Regions from separate parts of the Homo sapiens genome. Here all the other regions are linked to region 1. The links come from fine-mapping of genetic effects on gene expression. A gene starts in region 1. Each other region holds a variant in brackets. All regions are shown on one strand. Distances are between the middles of the regions. Region 1 holds the start of GYG1 (glycogenin 1). Region 2 overlaps CP (ceruloplasmin). Region 3 overlaps HPS3 (HPS3 biogenesis of lysosomal organelles complex 2 subunit 1). Region 4 has its middle 30 kb from the start of GYG1.

Region 1 (5,473 bases):
CTATTCAAAGTGTGGGTCCATAGCCTGGGGATCACCTGGGAGACCCACCCCCAAACTACTGAGTCAGAATCCGCATTTTAATAAGATCCTTGGGCAATCTGTGTGCGCATTAAAGTTTGAGAGGTCTTGCTCTCACACCAGACTGAAGCTCACTGCAGGGCAGCCTCAGGAAAAGTAGGCAGTGGGGTCATTATGATCTATATTAAGACAATGAAGAAGAACAGATTGTAGCAACCTCAAAATGTCCCTATTTGATTCAAAGTGGTAAAAGCTGTAAACTTTCTATTTGTGTAAATATACATGAAGCTCAGGAAGGGAAGCTGTGGTAACCGTTCCTTTTACTTAAACGTCCTGGGAGTTGCAGCAGAGAGGAGCTTGTTCTAAGGGAAGCTTTTCTGTTTTTCCCAGTTGTCCCCAGTTCTACCTCCTGGCTTTGCCCTTTCAGCCCCATCACCACATCCCTGGCTAAGTCCAGCCTGAGATAGTAGGCTGCAAGAAGTAGATGGTTAAGGGTCAGCTGATGGCAGGAGGGTTCTGGGTGAAAGATGGAAATCTCACTCTTCCAAGTTCACCTCTCAGTCTGCAAAAGAGCAATCAGACTGAGAAGTACCTCTCTTTGTTTTCCCTCTCCCCACTTAAGATACAAAAGTGTAGCCTTTGTGTTCCTTAAAGAGCTCCAACTCTTCTATGTCTATATCTTTTGAATAAGTGGAAACCCATCTATTGCCCTTTCCACTTTTCTGTTTCCTACAACGGAAGCACATAATGCCAAGTAACTGGGAGGGCCTCCCATGTGATCAGCGGTCTCTAGGCCATGGTCAAGACTAGGAAGGACTCAAGAGAGGCTCCTGGAAGGTGATATTTAAAATACTGATTTTAAGGTTCTACCCTTAAGATTCTTTTTGTTTTGTAACCTGTTTTTCTTCAAATAATATATTTTGAACAGCTTTTTATATTAAAAATATATAATGATTATGCCTACAGAGTATTTCATTACCTCAAGAGTATATGACGCGACTTCAAAAAGTCCATAGAATATACATATTATAAAAAAAAAATGCATGGATTTCAAAATTATTTTGCACCAAAATAAACCTACCCTTAAGATTCTGATTCAGGAGGTCTGGGCTTAGGCCCAAAAATCTACGCTTTAACCAGTGCCCCCAAGTGATTCTGATGTAGGAGATCCACACCCACACACGAGGAAACAGTGATATAACTGGTTTGAGGACAGCAGTACCACCTTTGCAAATAAATCACTTATTCTTAAGCATCTGTTTTGCTTTTTGAACTGATGTCAACTTCCTGATTGGTTTCCAAATGGCTTTGCAGTACTCATTCAACATTTACCGAGCAATTTCAGTTTTCAGTTTGCAGAGAACTGAACTACCCGAGGCTTGTTCTGTGTTTGGACTGGGGATGGGGAGCAGAGAAGGATGTGATCACATTAAAGCTATTTCTCAACTTCCTAGAAAAATGACAAATTGACCATTTCAAGATTTGTGAAACAGGTTAGCATTGGCTAACCACAGTTACAATAATTTACTAACCTTTTTGGAGCCCCTGTGTACAAGAGGCACCAAGACTTTCTGGGTGGGAAGGTTGATTCTGTAACCAAACTGCCAGGGTTTAAATCCTACTTTCTCCATTTATATTATATGACTATAGAAAAGTTAGCACTTTGGGAGGCTAAGGCTGGCAGATCACTTGAGGCCAGGAGTTCCAGACCAGGCTGGCCAACATGGTGAAACTCTGTCTCTACTAAAAATACAAGAAAAAAAAGAAAAGAAAAGTTAATTTAACTTTTCTGAGCTCAGTTTCCTCCTCGTCTGTAAAATGAATATGTAACACCTCACTGAGTTCGTACAAGGATTAAATGAAGCACTTAAATGCCTAATTGATGCAGATGGCTCCAAGAATTTAACATTTACGAAATATTCACTATATTTTTTAGGTTAAGGGTACAAAACCATTGTGAGTACACTAAGGAATGATTATAGAGGCTGATCGAAATTCTGCAAAAAAAGCGTAAATTTTACGTTTCATTCAAGCAGTTCAGACTCACGATTTTAACTAGAGTAATCTGGGGTTTGTTTGCTTGTTTTTTAAGGTTCCCTAACCCTTGGCTTCTTGGGGAGTTTGATGCCGCACTCAGCCCCAAAGTCCCCCTTAACTCCCAGGTTTAGCGGCGACAGGGGGCGCGCGGTTGACAAGGGCAGGCGCCCCGGGGAAGTAGGAGCAGGGGCGCCGGTGAGCCGCAGCCGCAGCGGCAGCCTAGCCCCGAGGGAGGGAGGAGGAGCCGAGGGAGACGCGGGACCCGGAGCCCCGCGGGCCACCGCCCCTGCCGGCCGCGCAGCTGGGAGGATGCGGACGGCAGCGAGAGCGTGCGCGGCCACGTGACGGCCGCTATAAGAGCGCACGGGGCAGACGCTCGGTTCCCCGCCGTGCCTCCTCGCTGGCCGCGCTCCCTCCCGGTGCCGGCTTCTCTGAGTCACCAACCTGAGGCTGCCCCGGCCGCCTGCGCACCCGGCAGCACCATGACAGGTACCGCCGCGCAGCCCGCCGCCGCCAGCCCCGGGACCCCGGCTTCCTGCCCAGCCGCCGCCTCCCTTCTCCTCCGCCCTCAGCCCCGGAGTGTTCCCGGCAGGACGAAACCGCCGCAAAGTTGCTGGCTGGCCGCAGCCGGGCGTGTTTCTGCCTGCGTCAGCTGCCGCCCCGCCGCCCCCCAGAGTGCAGGGATGGGGCAGCCGGGCAGAGCCCGGGCCCTCGGCCGGAGCTCTCGTTCCTGCTTCCGTCTCCTCGTCCTTCCTCTTGCTCTCACGGCGAAGGGCCGGCGGGCGGAGCAGCTGCGGCGGGGCCGTGTGGGGGTGGGGAGCCGGTTCCCCTGGGGGTTCCAGGCGGGAGTCCGGGGCGCAGCGGCATCGTGGGGAGCTGCCCCGGCCTCTGGCGGCCCGGAACCCCAGGAAGCAGGGGCTCCGAGGCGGGGATACTGCGGCCTCCGCCCGGCTCCTCCGCCGCCCGCCCCGGCCCCGGCCGCCACGCTGAGCCTATTTTTAGGCCTTTGGGGCCGGGTTGCGGGAAGCCGGGAGTCGGACTAGCGTCCCCGGGCGCGAGCCCCGTCTGGTGGGAGGGCGCCGGCTTTGGCTTCACTTGTTGCGAGGCGTCCGGGCCACTCCACGAGTTAGCCCCAGCACTGGGAAGCTCCGAGTTAGCTGGTCCTTCCGTGTCATTGAGGCTAATAGCCAGGGTTATTACAGCAGTTGAACTGCCACAAAGATTGCAGGTGTAACCCAGAGTTCAGCCGTCTTTAGGAAGATTAAACTCCTACCCAGCTGTCATTGGTCTTTCTTGGTCATTTGTAATGTTGGCTAGTCTGGTGTTCTAACCTGTGTTCTATCCCTTATTTAATCTTGGAAATCATCCATATCCTTGCTTCCAGAAATCCTTGAATCCTGCTCACCTTATTACATTTTTCTCCATGATCGCCTGGAACCTGGACTTCATTTGAGTTAGATGATCATTCATTTTGCCTAGCTTAAGTATTTTTGGTACAGATTGACAGCGATGTTACCCATGTTATAATGGGCTGAAGATAATAGAAGCAAGTACAGGCGGATGTTGATGGGCCTGTCAAGGGACAGGTGCCACTGTTCAGAGCTTTCCTAGAGTGTGAGTGACTGGGAAGCTGGTGGCCCTTCGGGGGTGGGGAACTGGTCTTCCTACAACTTAGTAGTTGGCCTGCCGTGGGAGAGGGCCTAATAAAATGTGTGAAGATGGCTCTCAGGTCAGCAGCCGAGGGATGCGCTGGCCCACTAGGCAACCCACAACTTCCTCTCATGTCTCGGTGGAATTTCTACTGCTTCCAGCCTCCACCTTGGAAAACGGGCAAGGGAGAATGAGGGAAAGCCAGGTCAGAAAGAGAAGGACTTCATGACAAAATGTCCCAACTCGCTGGTTAAGCAACTGACTCCTACCAGAACTTGATCCGAAGTGTCCTATGCATTTGGATGCCCACCAACTTGCTAATGTTTCTTGGAGATGGAACATGGCCCAGAATTGTCCCAGGGAATGACTGGAGAAATCTTGAAGCCTGTGCTAGGGGTCTTGGGAGGGTGGGGACTGTTCAGCAGGAGGAAAAATCCATGTATTTACCTTCTCTTCTGGCAACTAAGTGATTATTGGAGATTGGGGTGCGTGTCTGTTGGTTTGGGCGGGGGGAGGGGGAGGGTGCAGGATGGACCTGCACCTTCTTCTCCAAAGAAAAGCAGGCAGTTGTTTAGGGCTTCTTGGGTGATCTCCAAATCTATTTATCAGTGATTGATAACTATTTAGATAGAAGCATCAAGGAGGGAAAGCCTCTTTGAGGAGCTGATACTTGAGGAGAGACTCAATGTTATTTTTCAGGGATATTGGGGCAGGGGAGCTTTTGCTCCACGTTGAGGAAACAGTTATGTATAAGATGCCTGGAGTTCGAGGCTGCAGTGAGCTATGATCACACCACTCCACTCCAGCCTGGGTGGCCGAGTGAGACCCTGTCTTAAAAAATACATACATACATACATTCCTGAGGCATGGCATAAACGTAAGCACCAGAATGAAGAATATGGACTCTGCTTTCAGACTGACTGAATTGAGTTTGACGGTTGGTTTTGTGCTTGTCTGAAAACACTGTCTACAGTACCTTGTAGAAGAAACAGCAAATGTACTACTTGATCTCTTCATTACCATCTGTTAGTTGCCTGGAGTTCAAACTCTTGGTATTAAGCTATTGTTTTGTCTGAGAATTTAGCGTGTCGGATTTAATTTCTATAGCTTAATCAACCTGTTGAAGGTTGCCATATGTGCCTGCTATGATCTTGAACCATTCTTGAAGTGGGCACTTGGGGTTTTCTCCCCAAAGGGCTACAGCTTGATTCATAGAGAAAGTTGATGTTAGAGGAACTGGTTTTGCTGAATTACTGTTTGAATGGGTTCCTGGGGAAAAGGCTTTCTCCAGATAAGATACTGTAATGAGTGTTTTTTTTTTCTTTGTATTAAGATCAGGCCTTTGTGACACTAACCACAAACGATGCCTACGCCAAAGGTGCCCTGGTCCTGGGATCATCTCTGAAACAGCACAGGACCACCAGGAGGCTGGTCGTGCTCGCCACCCCTCAGGTCTCAGACTCCATGAGGTGAGGACCTCGCTGCCACCCCAGCATCCAAGGGGCTCTGACATCCTTCTCCCTGTTGCTGACATCATTGGACATTGAGGCCATGCTCTTTTCAGGAATTGAGCACCGGGTAGAGAAAAATGAGAGATGCTGAGTGCAGGATTGCTGTATTTGAAACCTCCTCCTAGCTTTTGGGAGATATTCCAACTCAATTCTTTTCTGGAAGGTGTTATGCTGGCCCACACTTTCTGGTTCCAACTAGGAGGGGAAAGAAGGAGTCGTCTTCCTTCACTCCATCCCCTCTGGGTGATCTGAAGGAG
Region 2 (5,585 bases), 210 kb after region 1:
AACATCGAACATTCTTATAAGAACTTTTTTAAAAATTAAAAATCACCCAAGGTACTCCAGAAATGTATAATTGATACAACCCAACTAAATTACTATCAGGATTGTCAATAATCATCCAATTAAGGCAGGACAAAATTCCGTAAACCAATTGGAGGTAGGAGAAGGGGTTTATTTGTTTCCTGGCATGATGCCTAGAAATGATATATGAGCGGTTTCCTTGGGAGTTCCTGCCTTCAGTTTTTGCAGCATACTGTCAGTGACCAGTACAGTGGGTTATTAAACATTGTTGATTTGTTACACAGTGCTGTATACTCACTTCTGCTCTGGGGGTTGTAATTTGGGGAATAGTATGTGCCCTCGTTGTTCTTATTGAATCTCACCCCAATCGGCTCAATACTGAGGGGATATGCTCCTTTGTTATGGAAGGTTACTCTGATGGTGTCTCCCACCTCTGCCCAAATGACAGGACCTGGGAACAAAGAGAGAATTATTATCCTTCCTTGGTATGTAACATGCAGAATGTATAAGATAGTTATCTTCTTTGACTGTGTTCTCTGGCAAGAACTACTAGGAGCAACACGCTTATTTGTGGTGAATGGAAAGCTTGGTTTTTGAGAAGTCCATAATCAATCTGATATGTCGAGGTTGGAAGGAGAGAAGGGCTTTTTAATTCAACTTCAGATTAATGAAATTGATTATCATTTTTGTACAAGTCAGTTAGTAAGCTTTACACATCTACAAAAACTATTCAGAATGTTGAGACTCCTCAGCCTAATCTTCTGTTGGCTGGAGGTGTGTCATTTGTCCCAAGAGTTAGGTGCTATAAACTCTGACCACCCAAAGCAGATAAGTTGAATTGTTTTGGATGTGAAGGATAACACTGTTTTGGATTTTCCATGACCAAAATTAATGATTACCAATTATAGAATAAAAATATATATTTTACATAAATATTTTATGTAATATACAAAATGACATTTATAGAGAGTTTCCTATCTGTTCTTCTGAGTGTATGTCTATTAACTGATTTAATCCCTATACCAACTTTAATAACTATTGTTCCCATTTTACAGAAGGGAGCAGGGACAGACAGTGAGTATTTTCTTTTTTTCTTTTTCTTTTTTTGAGATGGAGTCTCATTCTGTTGCCTAGGCTGGAGTGCAGTGGCATGATCTTGGCTAACTGCAACCTCTGCCTCCCAGGTTCAAGTGATTCTTCTGTCGCAGCCTCCCAGTAGCTGGGATTACAGGCACTCGCCACCACGCCATTCTCATTTTTGTACTTTTTTTTTTTTTAGTAGAGATGGGGTTTCGCCATGTTGACCAGGCTAGTCTCGAACTCCTGACCTAAGTGATCTGCCTGCCTCGGCCTCCCAAAATGCTGGGAATACAGGCATGAGCCACCGCGCCCAGCCAAGTTGAGTAACTTTCAAAGGTCACACAGCTAATGTATGCACTGTGTACTCACAAAAAAACAGCTTTTTATAAGGGCCTCCAATTCTTGTAATACCTTGTTCAAAAAGTATTATACCTCTGAGTCACCGCTAGGAAAAAAAAAAGTGAAGAACCAGGACAATCTGAATCCATACTCTGTTTGCTCACCCACTGTTATTCTGCCTGCGTGCCTTGGCGAGAACAGGTCTCTGGACTCTGGCTGGGGGCAGCCTGCGGAGGGCTCTAGGACAGATCCTGCTTGTTTCATTAGTAGCCTGGGATTGATTGATTGATTGATTGATTGATTGATTTTGAGACGGAGTCTCGCTCTGTCACCCAGGCTGGAGTGCAGTGGCAAGATCTCAGCTCACTGTAAGCTCCGCCTCCCGAGTTCACGCCATTCTCCTGCCTCAGCCTCCAGAGTAACTAGGACAGGCACCCGCCACCACGCCCGGCTAATTTTTTTTGTATTTTTAGTAGAGACTGGTTTCACCGTGTTAGCCAGGATGGTCTCGATCTCCTGACCTCGTGATCCGCCCGCCTCGGCCTCCCAAAGTGCTGAGATTACAGGCGTGAGCCACCACGCCTGGCCCTAGCCTGGGTTTTATTTCTAAGGGAACACATCTTTAACTAAGTGCAGAGGCTCACAACTTAGTTATCTATTTAAACCAAGTCACATAAACACACAACACACAATTCCCCTTACCTCTTTGAAGAAAAAAATAACCATTTGAAGTCAGGTCAGCATGGGTTTTTGTTTGTTTGTTTGTTTTGTTTTTTGAGATGTAGTCTCGCTCTGTCTCCCAGGCTGGAGTGCAGTGGCACGATCTTGACTCACTGCAACCTCCGCCTCCCGGGTTCAAGCGATTCTCATGCCTCAGCATCGAGGCACAAGAAACTGGGATTACAGGTACGTGCCACCACGCCCTGCTAATTTTTGTATTTTTAGTAAAGATGGGGTTTCACCATGTTGTCCAAGCTGGTCTCAAACTCCTTACCCAAGTGATCTGCCCGCCTCAGCCTCCCAAAGTGCTGAGATTACAGGGGTGAGCTACCACTCCCGGCCGTCAGCAGGGCTTTTAATGATGAAAATTTACCATTGGTAATTTACATTTGGAAAAGTACTTAGCTGCTGCATTTTATTGTTTTATCTTCCACACGCCTACTTAACACATAGAAATCATGCAGTAGGTCCTGAAGTTACTATTCTTTCTGAGGTTGATGTAGCCCATGGGAAGAGTAAACCAGCCATATATATTCTGCAAGAACTCACCCAGGATGCCAAGATGCTCTTCTTCAGGGCCTCTCTCCTTTCGATTTGTGAAGGAGGCATCTGTGTACTCACGATAAACCAGCTTTTTATAAGAGCCTCCAATTCTTGTGGTACCTTGTTCAAAAAACACCGCTGAGTCACTGCAGGGGGAAAAAAGTGTTTAATGCTGGGGTTGAAGTAGAACAGAAAGCAGGTATTCACTTAAGGTGCTAATTGAAGAGAAAAATTCTGACCAGTGCTTAGAGATGAATATTATCCATGATTTATAGCAATCCGTACCAGTTACTCAAACAAAGCAGACAGTTCCAGTCCACTCATAGAAGGATGGTCAGTTAAGAAGTAGAGAATCATGGAGGATGTTTATTTTTTCAAGTGAAGAGAAAATTTTCAGAAGGGCCCCTTCAACCCCTTGACAAAGGATTCTACCATAGAATCTTTTTATCAAATTGTGAAATGTTTAAAAACACAGTGGCTAGTTTTTTGTTGTTGTTGTTGTTGTTTGT[CT/C]TTTTTTTTTTTTTTTTTTTTGACATGGAGTCTCGCTCTGTCACCCAGGCTGGAGTGCAGTGGCACATATCAGCTCACTGCAAGCTTTGCCTCCTGGGTTCACGCCATTCTCCTGCCTCAGCCTCCCGAGTAGCTGGGACTACAGGCGCCTGCCACCATGCCTGGCTAATTTTTTGTATTTCTTTAGTAGAGACAGGGTTTCAACATGTTAGCCAGGATGGTCTCGATCTCCTGACCTCATGATCTGCCCGCCTCGGCCTCCCAAAGTGCTGGGATTACAGGCATGAGCCACCATGCCTGGCCTTTTTTTTTTTTTTTTCAGGTGGAGTCTCACTCTGTTGCCCAGGCTGGAGTGCAGTGGTGCCATCTCAGCTCACTGCAACCTCCACCTCTCAGGTTCAAGCAATTCTCCTGCCTCAGCCTCCCGAGTAGCTGGGACTACAGGCGCCCGCCACAACGCCCGGCTAATTTTTTGTATTTTTAGTAGAGACGGGGTTTCACCGTGTTAGCCAGGATGGTCTCGATCTCCTGACCTCAGTGATCCGCCCGTCTCGGCTTTGCAAAGTACTGAGATTACAGGCGTAAGCCACTGCGCCCGGCCCCAGTGGCTACTCTTTATTGTGTATTAGCACTGGCCAGCTGCTCGGGAGCTTTTATTTATTTATTTTTTGTTTTTGGAGCAGAGTCTCGCTCTCTTGCCCAAGCTGGAGTGCCGTGGTGTGATCTTGGCTCACTGCAAACTCTGCCTCTCTGGTTCAAGTGATTCTCATACCTCAGCCTCCTGAATAACTGGGATTACAGGCATATGCCACCATGCTCAGCTAATTTTTTGGTTTTTAATAGAGACGGGGCTTTGGTATGTTGGCCAGGCTGGTCTCGCACTCCTGGCCTCAAGTGATCCACCCGCTTTGGCCTCCCAAAGTGCTGGGATTACAGGCATGAGCCACGGCGCTTGGCCAGGAGCTTTTGTTTATTAGCTGAAACTCACATGACATCGCAACAAAGTTGGTATTATTCTCCCTATTTTGCAAACGAAGAAATTAAATTTCAGAAAGGTAATTATTTGACTTGCGCAAAGCCACCTCATTCATCATTTCTTTCACTTGACAAATGCATCAAACACCTGCTCTTTGCTGGGAATCCTGCTATGTGTTGATGACTTAACCATAAGCAAGGTGGACTCTTCCTTGTCCACGTGGACCTTACATCTGGCAGAGAAGACAGGCCATGAACCCATCAATATAATACAGTGTAATAAGCACAGGGTATTATGGAGCATTTCTTTGAGGTTGGGGAAAGTGCAGTGAAGAGGCCACAAAGACATTCCAGAGGAAGTGATTACTCAAAACTACCTAAAGGGGAAGTAGAGTTAGCAAGATGAAGTGTGTGTGTAGCGCAGAGACTAGGGCAGGTGTATACAAAGAGGAAACTGCTTATGAGCAGGCTTAGAGAAAAGAGCGAGCATGCCATGTTCTAGAAAATATGGCAGAAGCATAGCATGCAAGACAGGGCAGAGGAGTGAAGAATGAGGCTTAGATAGATGGGAGATAAGCAGTAGGACCTAGTTAAGGTTTCAGCCTTCCATCCCAGGGCAGTGAGAAGCATTTGAAAGATTTAAGCATTCAGGATTAGCATTTTAGGAGGATCCCTCTGGCAGATGTTTGGAGAATGTGTTGGAAAATACAAGACTGCAGTAGGGAGACCAGTCAGGAGCCTGCTTTTCTAATCTCAGTGAGAGGCAGAGATGAGTTCATAGGTATTGGCAAAGAAGATGGAGAGAAGTAGACAGCCTTCAGAGATAGTTTCTATAAAACAAGGCAGTACTTGATGAGGAGAGGAGTTTGAATAGCCTCATCCATGTGGGGGTGTCACTAAGAAGTTTGAAATGCAATCTGAAATTCACTAGATCCTCCTGAGTTGGAGACGCAGCGTTGGGAGTAATCACATGTAGGTGTCAGTGTAGCATGGGACTTAAATCTCTGCTTCAGGAGTCACAGGTCTGGGCTGAGCAAGTCCTAGCTATCCATTTATTGTGTGATGTTGGATGAATTACTTAACCTTTCCAAGGAGGGTATTTTTAATATGGATGGCAAACAGGGCTTCTCTGAGGAAGTGATATATGAGTAAAGACTTGGAGCAGGGGAGTGGCATCATCTCATTGACATTTTTGAAAGATCACAGTACTGCTTTGTAAAAAATCGATAGTAGAAAAGGAAGACAAACAGAAAGAATGACTGGGAGGCTGTGGAAGTCATTCAGACATGTACAAAGAGTAGCTTGTGTACATCAAAGGACACTATCAAGAAAGTGAAAGACAACCTATAGAATGCCAGAAAATATTTGCAAATAACTGATAAGGAATTAATATCCTGAAT
Region 3 (5,000 bases), 160 kb after region 1:
GGTTTATATCTGTCTGGAAACTGGAATACCTTTTTCCAGAAGGATAAGCCTTCAGTAATGGTGGTTATCTTAACAAGCCAGCCCCGACTTAGTGCCTAATGTGTCTGAGATACTCTTTCACGGTCACTGTCACCCAAACTGTGTCATATGATAGTGTTTTATGGCAAGCATGGTCTCTGAGTTCCTAGTGACCCTTTTTAATGGCCTGCCTGTGGTTTTCTGTTGCTGACCAGGCTTACTGCCTGCTGTCAGCCTCTTGGGAAACCAGAACCACAGATTTCCTGTGCCTTTGTTTGTATAAGATACACACATGGCCTTTTTGAGAGATTACTTTAAAATCAGGATTATTTCCTTTGTAAAAATAGAAAAGTAACAGATTAAAAAAATAAAACTTCCATTCTTTGTCCTCTTCTTTCCCCTCCTTGCGTTTTCAAACCTCAGAAAGACATAGGCTTATATAGGGGTGATGGTGTAATTTAAAGTACCTAATAGATTGAAGTAGGATCAATGTACCTTTGGAAAAAAAATAATTCCATGTATTTTCAGAGTCTTATAAAAGGCAGAATGAAGGAACAAGGAAGAGACAAAGGGGAGGGATAAGGAGAGGTGGGCATCTGGTGGAGGTATGCTGCCCTTGAGGCCAGTGGAGGTAGGAGGGGGAAGGCATAATCACACCTCACGGTTCCTCCTTTCCTGGGACTCCACCAGTTCTGAAGCCCTAGGTGCCAGTTAAACAAGCACACGTTTAGCCCACCTGCTGACTCAGGCTTTGGAGCTGTGATGTCTGAAAAAAGTTTCACAACCTCAAGAGTCTGGTTGAAAGTGCTTGTGGTCTGTCTCCTTTTCCTCTGAGATTCTGACTCCTCAGCACTAACCAAGCCACCTTAACTATTTTTACATGGAGGTAACAATGAAGATGACCTCAGAATCAAAACAGCATGCATGGACAAGAAGGCAGGGTCCTGGCAGCATCATTTTGTGAGCTCCCAGAATAGAGCTCTTCCATTAGTTTTCTTATTCATTCTACTTGAATTAATGGTCCTTTACAAGAGCAAAAGGCTGGCTCCTCTAGTTTACCTGACATGTCCCAGCCTGTCCGCCATTCCAGGCACTATTCGTACCTAACAGACTAACAGTCAGGGGCCATCGGAACATACAAGCATTTCTTTCACACACACATCCGCAAAGAAACCATTTTATGTACTCTACAAGCAGTAGAATGTCCTTTCATAGTGTCTGGTTTTTCCTAAAAACCCCATTTGGGCGTACCCCCAACCATCCTGCTAGTTGTGGGGGTTTCCCTGGGTGGCAGAGTACCAGCTTCATCTCCTGGAGGTATCTGTGGAGCCACTCTGTGGGGCACACACACAAGTTCCTGCAGCTGTGGGACCCTCTTTCCGTATTTATTCAATCAATCAATAACTGAGTTTGTTGGCTGAGTAGCTCTATGGAATACACTATTGGTTACATAGGTTTAGATAACCTCTTCTGTTAAGAATAGGAATCTGGGTTGGTCTTTTGTTTGTTTGTTTGTTTTTTGGTGGTGGTGGGTATGGGATGGTGGCAGCAGAAGAGATTTGATCAAATAAACTGACTGATTTTTGAAGATTGAAGTGCATGTACCTTTATTTCTTGCTTAAATATGTGATTTTCCTTTACTAGGCTTGCCCACCTGTCAGTATGGATGTCTGTGCTTTAAGAATACAGCTTTTCATAGGCTTGAAAGCCATCTGTCACTTTAAAAACCACATCATACTTTTGACTAAAGCAGAACCTGAAGCCATTCCAGAGAGAAGACAGTCACCCAAGAGGCTTCTGTAAGCATCCCCTTGCCCCAGGCATTCCTGCCAGTTTCTGGAATGAGTTGTAACTGGTATATTTTGTGTTTATCTTTTTTCAAATCATAACTTGGAATGATCAAATGGCTTTTTTATGGTGGTCTTTTTCCAGAGAAAGAAAAGAAGGTTCTAACAATCTCTGTAATACACTTTATAACTGACCTGGAAACTTTTAGGAGAAAATGGATTATAAAATAGTTTCAGTAAAAATCAAAGGTGTTTTAGATTAGTTAAAGGCCATGCTTTTCTGTGTAATTAATGAGAAAGACTGAGCCTATAATGCTAATTGAAACTACAGGACTTTTTACTGTCTTTCTTCTTTGACCCTTTCAGTTGTTACATTTTTATCTAAAATTATTTTCTGATATTATGAAAGAAATTAATAATGTATGTCTTACCTTAAAGCACATTTATGATCTATAGATATGTGCTCATGTATCTGAAAATAAAGTTGTATTTTGATAACATTCATCTCTTGTTATTTATTAGGTTTCTGCTTTCCCATTGTTTAGAATAGAATGCTTAATTCC[A/G]GACTAGTTATGCTTCTATTTGATGTTTTCCTACTTAGTGGTAGAGAATGCAATCTAATTTCTCTAAGGAAAATTTAATCAAGAAAGAAATCTCTTCAGGGAGTGAAGCATATAGTGTATTTCATATCAAACATGGGTTATTTTTAACATAGATTTTTACTTTTTCAAATTGTTAGTGGCTGTGCTTTGTTGCATCAACAGGAATCAGAGGTTGACTTTGGTAACTGATCACTTTGAGTGTACACAGAGTGGTCTGGGGCTGACTGATCCTAAAAGCTTTCTGGGGAGAGGAAAAGCAGTTTGTAGTCTTGCACATTTGACATTCTAATAGTATAATTTTTTAAATGATGTTTTAAAAATTCTAATTCATTTGAAAATTCATTTGATAAACAATTATAAAAGATTGTACACTAAAGAAAATGTATCACATAGTGAAAGCAAGAGATAAGATAGTGCTTTAAGCAGACTTAACAGTTTTATGTGTCTTCATCATATTCTCAGCAGCCATGATGTTGCTTCTGCTTAGATTTGTGGCTCAGGGCATGCTAGACTCATGAAAGTCAAATGCAGAAAAGAGCCTGGGTATAGGGACTTCCGCAGTCAAGGATCTTTTCCTCTTGATGGGACTTGCCTGTTCTTTGAACTTACTGCTCATTTGAGAATACTTGCAGAGTGAATTGGAAGCAGTTGGTTTATCATTACATGAAAATTACAGAATATTAAATGCAGTTAGCCTATGTAGTATTGTGAACTAATATTCCATAGAAATAGAGTGTACAGTTAATCACTGAGGAAAATAGTAAATGAAAATGATTTTATAGTTATTTTATATCCAATATTTACCATTTACAACTACCATTTATTAATAATGTCATTTTAAAATTCTTGTCCTTTGTTTTGCTTTTAGTTCGAGAAAAGATACCAGTGTTAAAATCAAAATACCTCCTGTAGCTGAGGCTGGGTGGAATTTGTATATTGTGAATACGATCTCACCAGTGCAGCTGTACAAAGAGATGGTACTCTTTTCAAACTTCTGATTCTTGTTTGTAGATATTTAGAGTGAAATTAATGATCAGAAATTGATTCTAATTATCATACATTCAGGATGCCACAGCCATTCAGCTTCCTGGCTCTGTCTGACAGTGGAATGTATATCTCTCTCTGCCTCCTCATTGTTACAGCTTCTGACATCCGAGGAACCAGTAGAAATTCCCTTCACTAGCATAAGACTCCCTTATTCATACCCACTCTCCTAAGAAGATCGATTGGCCAATCTGAACATAGTCTTTGACCTTAATTTGAACTCTAGCAAAGATAGCTAAGAAATGGAGCAAATAAATAAATAAATAAATAAATCTAGGATTATGTATCCCTGTCCCACTCTTCTTATTTAGAAATGTTAGCACATTGTCCCAGGGCACCACAGCTACTGCAGCATTGTCCTGGGGGGAGGGACCCAGAGGGAGCATCCTTACTGATCTAAGAGTGACAGCTTCCTACTCATCCCTGGCAATTATTTTAACTCTTTATTTTGAAACAATTTCAAACTTACAGAAAAGTTGCAAGAATAAGTATATTCTTCCCAACCCTTTGGGAGGCTGAGGCAGGTGAGTTGCTTGAGGCCAGGAGTTCGAGACTAGCCTGGGTAACATAGTGAGATCCCATCTGTACAAAAAATTAAAAAATTAGCCAGTTGTGGTGGCACATACCTGTAGTCCTAGCTACTTTGGAAGCTAAGATGGGAAGATCACTTGAGCCCAGGAGTTCAAGGCCACAATGAGCTATGGTCGTACCACTGCACTCCAGCTTGGGTGACACAGCAAGACCCTGACTCTTTTGACTCTTTTTTAAAAAAGAAGAATATTCTATATATTCCCATTCCCCACACAGATTTCTCCACAGTCAACATTTTACCCTATTTGCTTCTCTCTCTCTTTTATGCACTCTGTGCTTTCTGTGCACACAGATATACATACACTGTTTTCTGATTCTTCTTCGGGAGGTAAACTGCATACATCAGTCTTTTGCCCCTAAGTACTTCAGCGTATATTTTCTAAGAATAAGGATACTCTCTTGCATACCAGAATACAGTAGTATGCTTTAATAAATTTAACATTGACACAGTGCTTTATCTGGTTTATGGTTCATAGTCTAATTTTGTCAACTGACCCAATGGCTTGATAGCATTTCCCCTTCTCCAGTTCAAGACCCAGTCTAGGATCAGGTAGTGTGTTTAACTATGATGTCTCTTTAGCCTCCTTTGAAGCTGGAATATTTCTATAGCCTTTCATTATGTTTTATGACATGAGCATTTTTGAAAAATATAATTTTCCCCTCTACTTTTTTTTTGAGAGTATTCCTTATTTAGGGTTTGCTTTTTTTTTTTTAATGGTTAGATTCAGATTATGCATTTTCAGCCAGAATATTGCATAGGTGATTTTTGTGTTAAGGGTATCACATCTGGAGGCACATGCTGTTCATCTACCCCTCTTTGGTGATGTTAATTTTTGGTCATCAGGTCAAGGTGTTGCCTGATTTGTCCCTGCCAATAATTTAATGCCAATTATTATATTAGCTGTGCCCTGTCTTTTCAGTCTTGCTTAATTGAAAGTCTTCGTTTAGGTGATTTGAC
Region 4 (5,585 bases), 31 kb before region 1:
GTTAAATGAACCAAGGTGATTCCCTTTGGAGGAGAGAAGGTTACAGGGTGAGCTAGCGACGGTTTTCAAGTATATAAAAGGCTCATGCCTAGGACAGTAATAAGCGGTTCTCCCTACTGAGAACAGAACAAACAGAAAACACACTCCAAATGCAGCATGGGGATGTGGATGTTTCTTCCTCTAACACAGGTATTTGTAAGGACTTTTGAATCTGAATGGACTTTTAGAGTGGAAAAAGTATTTTTTCTTTGCATTCATTATCTCTCTCCTGATGGAGCAGGTTGTTAACAATGAAAGGAGGAGCCATATGGTAAAAATACTTTCATCTACATAAGAGGACAGTGATGTGATGTTTCTCAATGAAGAATGTATCATTTCTATATTTGCCTATGAGATCCACTTCATACAGGAAGCAGCTGAAACACAAATTGCTTTGGTAACATGTTCAAGGTCAGAGGGCTATAAACAGCCACATTTTCCCCGTTGCACACTTTCCAGTTACATACCAAGAAAACTGAGTTTTTCCTAGTAAATAAGGAGTGTAGAAGATATCAATACATAAATAGATATACATAAACAAACAAGCAACCTCTTCCTTAAGAAGTGTAGAAGCAGGCTGGGCACAGTGGCTCATGCCTGTAATCCCAGAACTTTGGGATGCCAAGGTGAGCAGATCACCTGAGGTCAGGAGTTCGAGAGTGGACAACATGGCAAAACCCTGTGTCTACTAAAAATACAAAAATTAGCTGGGCATGGTGGCACGCTCCTGTAATCCCAGCTACTTGGGAGGCTGAGGCAGGAGAATTGCTTGAACCCGGGAGGCGGGAGGCAGAGGTTGCAGTGAGCCGACACTGCCACTGCACTCCAGCCTGCGTGATGGAGCGAGACTCAGTCTCAAAAAAAAAAAGAAAAAAGAAAAACTATAGAAGTAGAGTCCTCCAGGGCAGAGGTAAGCTGCCTTCATAGGGAAGCATGGCATTTCCCAGAGGCCTCCATGGTGACTGGCATTTTCTTAATTTTCTAAGTTGAAGGTAGAGCAAAAGTGAGCTTATCTCTGGAACTCTACCCAGACTGACCTTCAAGAAAGCCCACGGAAATAAAGTCTTAGCTGTTTCCTTTGTGCTCCCTTTCTTCTCTCAGCCCCAGAACCCTCTTATTCCTGAACACGTCCACCAATATCCTCAGGGCCCCTCACAGAGAAGGCTGACCAGACCCAGAAACCAGCTTGTTACCCTACTTCCTCACAGCATCACTCTTCTTTAGGATTTCTAACCAACATGATATAGCCTTATGCCTCTTGTTAAGAATGCCCATTGTTACATGGGAATAAATTTTGGAGGGTTTCCACTGAGCAGGTGGGTTTCAGATAAACATGGGCCCTTGCACCTCTCTTCATGCGGGTAAAATCTGCCCCACCTAGTTAGTCATGGCATTTACTCAATCCTGATCTCTTTTCTCCTCCCCTTTCTACCACTTCCCAAGATGTATTTATTTGCCCTGATATTGCCTGTATTAGTCTGTTTTCACACTGCTGATAAAGACATACCCAAGACTGGGCAATTTACAAAAGAAAGAGGTTTAATTGGACTTACAGTTCCACATGGCTGGGGAAGCCTCACAATTATGGTGGAAGGCAAGGAAGAACAAGTCATGTCTTACATGGATGGCAGCAGGCAAAGAGAGCTTATGCAGGGGAACTCCTCTTTTTAAATCCATCAGATCTCGTGAGACTTATTCAGTATCACGAAAACAGCACAGGAAAGACTTGCCCCCATGATTCAATTACCTCTCACCAGGTCCCTCCCACAAGTTCCACAGGTTCCCTTCCCACTTGGGAATTCAAGACAAGATTTGAATGGGGGCACAGCCAAACCATATCATTGCCTAATTGTATTTTTCTTCTTGCTGGATTATTAAAGAGCCTCAGTATCATCTTTAAATGTTATTAGCTTAATAAGAATGAGAATGTGAGACTGTCAACATTAAATCAAAGAAGTGTTTTGCTTCGCTTTGTTTCATGTGATGGGACTATATCTAGAAGGCGTGATAAAAGGAGGGTAGCCCATTTAATTATACATCATAAATTGTTACCAGACATTTGGAATTAGGAAAAGTACATCAGGAATTACAAGGGCCAGCACATGTGAAAAAGGCTTAATTGAGACCATGAATTTGGAAATAGCTAAAGAGGCAGTTTATCTTACTGCTATTATATCTTCTAGTGTTGTTATGCTCTGGATTGGCTTGAATCACATAAAAATGGTTCTAAAAGGGATATGGAATCCATGTTTTATGAGTAGAGATTAAGTTATTTATTTGATATTCCATCACATAAATTTGGGAGCTAGACAAATCTGCATTCAAATCCCAGATCTCCCATTTGCTGTGAGAATCTGGCCAAGAAAGTTCATCCACCTCTAAAATAAGCATAAGAACACCAACCTCCAAGTTTTTCGTAAAAATTAACTTATGTAAGATACATCATACACATAGCAGTTTGTAGCACATATTAAGCTTTCAGCAGGTGGTAATGATTACCACCACTAAAATAATAGTAATAACATTTTCACCCCTCTTTGCTTTCTCAAACACTTCTCTAGATTCTAATCAGACAAACTTACCTTGAAAGCAGATATCAGCAACCTGGAATATTGTGGCAAAGGCAGCCCAGAAATTGTATCAGACATTGTACTTCCAGTGTCTTCCACTAACGTGCAAAAGTGTGCTCAGTGTATCCTGGGCCACCCTCCTCTTCATATCACCCTCCTACCACCGGGTCTCCTGAGTCCTCCTCTCCTTCCAGCAAACCCATCCATGCATACCATCCTCTGCCCTGCCCCAGTGTTACTCCTTCTCTCACCCTCCCCTCTTTAATCAAAACTCTCTTTCCTTCAGGATGGTTATATTCTTTGTGTGCTAGGACAAAAGTACCAGCAGTTTCCTCATCAGCCAACTGAGAGAGTAAATGAAAAGCTCCCAACTGCGCCAAGCCCTCATGTGGCCTCAGTAAATGTGAGTGCTCATCCCTCTTGTGTAAGATAGGAGATCCGTACAGGTTTACCTCTAAAACCCTGGGATTACACAGAA[A/C]TTTAGAGCAAAGTATGAAGCCAGGGTAGTTTGTATGCTGGCAGAAAAGTTTTCTTAACCACTTTCTCCCCAACCCACACACCTCAACTAATCTTTATTTGGTAGACTATGATATATTTAAAGATATCTGAAGAAACTGTGTCACCACCCAGCCAACACAAAAAAGCCAAAACACTATCAAAATCCTCACCAGCCCACTTCCGAATAGTGGCTGGCCCCTGCTCCCCATACAAATATTGCTAGAGTATTTAAAAATAGAGTTAGCACCTGTTAAGGATGTTTGTGGACAGTCCAAGAAAACGTAGATCAGCTTCATCCTGGAAGGACCCTTGACCAAAAGCTGTGACCTCAAGCATGACAAGCTTTTTTGAGCAGAACTAAGAGCAAGATAGGCACCCCGTAACTAAGAGCAGCGTGGGTACCCCAGGGTAAGTATTCTGGTAACATTTGCTGAATTCAGGCTGGAGCAGTGACCTGATCGAGAGGTGGCATTTGCCATTAAGGCAGATTTGGAATTTGATGGGCTGGTTTGTCAAGCAAAGGACCATCCATGGGACTGATGGCTCCGTAAGAACCTAGTAATGGAATTATGTGCCTGGGATACACAGCTGGCAATTATATTCTCCACTTCAGGCAGCAATAAAGATAAAGTGCTTTATAATGTATTCATTCATTTCAATACAGTCAGTAGTGATGTTAGAATGGGGTTCCTATCAAGAAAAGGCAGAACTGCATTTGAGAAGGAAAAATGTGCTTTCTTAAAGAGATTATTTTAGAAAACACATGAATGTACATCAGAAATTTCATTAAATAAGTCAATTTGGCAGGTGATCCTAATGGGCTACTGGAAAAGGGGAATTAGAGCAATTGAAACAGCGGAAACAAATGAGCTACAGGTGTGCCTTCTTGTTGTCTCTGTTCTCATTTGGATTATTACAGGCTATGTCAAATACATTTTGAAAAGTTTGTAGTGTATCATCCCAATAATTATATCTGGAGTGTCTAGAAAGCATTGACTAGTTATATGATGGGGAGCTTAAGAGAGGAAATGTGGTTTCTGGGTTGTCCTCTCATAGGCTCAGCAGCTTCTTGATACTTCCCCTTATCCCAAGGCTGTCCTCCCCTCCTCTACCCAGGAGGAGATGAGTCACACAGGGAAAGAAAAGGACTCCTAATGCAAGAGGAAAAACACTGAGATAACCCCCAGGGAGGGGCGCTGTCCACAAGAGGCTGTGCTGATGCTCATAAAGAAGTTAGACCTGTGAAGGCACAAAGCTGCACTCCTAGCCTTGACCTCTTGCCAATATCAAAAAATGTTGTCTTTTAGGATGATGTGAATTTAAAGCTAACTCATAATCTTCCCCCTCAATTCCCAAATTAGCCTCTTTTTTGAATTTGCCTGTTTCACTAATTTAACTAACACATATTTATTGATAATTTACTATGTGCCAGGCACTGTATTAGGTGCTGAGGATAAAGCCATTAAAAAGGACAAAGTCTTGTCCATACACCCTTACATGCTAGTCAGAAAAAAATGACTTAATATATGATATATCGTCAGGAAGGATATAGTCAGGGAAGTCTTTCTAACCAGGGTACATTTTAGCCATCTCTATAGCTTAAGCTCCCTATCTCTATGAACCTGCAAGAATTTTTAGGAAAAGTAACATTTTGAAATATAGTGTATTAATTGAAAATGCCCATTTTTACAGGCATAAATGAGTGGAGAGGGCCAGGTAGGGGCTGAAAGTGAAGAAGCAAGGGAGGTGGGTCTCTGGAGGAAGAATGTTCAGAACAGAGGAATTGACAGGTGCAAAGGCCTTGAGTAGGGGTGATGCTTGCTTTGCTTAAGGAATAGCAAGGAGACCTGTGTGGCTGGAGAAAAGTGAGCAAGGTGGGATGGGAGGCAAGGCATGTCTCCCAGTTCTTATTCCCCTCCAGGTTGGAAACTGCAGGTAAACTACAGTATCTTTTACTCCTTCCACCTTTCTTTCATCCAGCTACATTTGCTTATCTTTTCTAAACAATGATTCTCTAAAATCATCCCTTCCCTACTTCCCCTTCCTCTCTCAACTTAAATCAGCCTCCAGTCACTTTATATCCAGATTATTCATGAGCCTCCTAACTGGCTTTCCAGCCTCTTGCATCTTCAACTGCTCCAATTACTTTACTAAGCTTCCAGATTAATCTTCCTAGAGCATTGCTTTTATCACATCTTTTCTTTCCCTGCATAAAAATGGCTTAGCATTAGCTGTAGGATAAAGCAGAAGCTCTTTAGCCCACCCCCGCCTCAATCTGGACCAAATCTCATCACCCTATGATCCATTCCCACCTTTCCAACTCCAGTGGCCTCCCCGCATTGTGCCATACTCTGTGTAATCACTCTCAACCTTGAAGCCCAGACTAAGACACATGTTAGCCTACACTGTGTGACCCAGCCAGAAACAGACTATCCCCTTTCTTTAACAGTTGGAGCACTAAGTCACACACACACACAC

Evidence for each region. PIP is the estimated chance that this variant, and not a neighbour inherited with it, causes the effect. A credible set is the group of variants that fine-mapping cannot tell apart.
Region 2: its variant is the best candidate, but not a certain one, in a credible set for the expression of GYG1 in non-classical monocytes (Schmiedel 2018, PIP 0.90).
Region 3: its variant is the best candidate, but not a certain one, in a credible set for the expression of GYG1 in whole blood (INTERVAL, PIP 0.87).
Region 4: its variant is the best candidate, but not a certain one, in a credible set for the expression of GYG1 in esophagus muscle (GTEx, PIP 0.59).

The regions. Positions count from the first base shown.
Region 1 is chr3:148,989,104-148,994,576 of GRCh38, forward strand. GYG1 (glycogenin 1) reads left to right here and starts at 2,437. Exons shown (of 8, transcript NM_004130.4): 1 at 2,437-2,544; 2 at 5,039-5,174. The coding sequence starts at 2,538. RefSeq lists silencers at 2,076-3,125, 3,159-3,453.
Region 2 is chr3:149,199,396-149,204,980 of GRCh38, forward strand. CP (ceruloplasmin) reads right to left here. Exons shown (of 19, transcript NM_000096.4): 7 at 2,707-2,846; 8 at 317-469. Among named protein-coding and RNA genes, the nearest start is that of CP, 20 kb to the right of the region's middle. RefSeq lists an enhancer at 1-51. The variant CT/C (reference allele first, on the strand shown) is at 3,210.
Region 3 is chr3:149,151,832-149,156,831 of GRCh38, forward strand. It overlaps HPS3 (HPS3 biogenesis of lysosomal organelles complex 2 subunit 1), which reads left to right. Exons shown (of 17, transcript NM_032383.5): 7 at 1,663-1,817; 8 at 3,276-3,384. Among named protein-coding and RNA genes, the nearest start is that of HPS3, 25 kb to the left of the region's middle. The variant A/G (reference allele first, on the strand shown) is at 2,369.
Region 4 is chr3:148,958,455-148,964,039 of GRCh38, forward strand. No RefSeq gene overlaps it. Among named protein-coding and RNA genes, the nearest start is that of GYG1, 30 kb to the right of the region's middle. The variant A/C (reference allele first, on the strand shown) is at 3,088.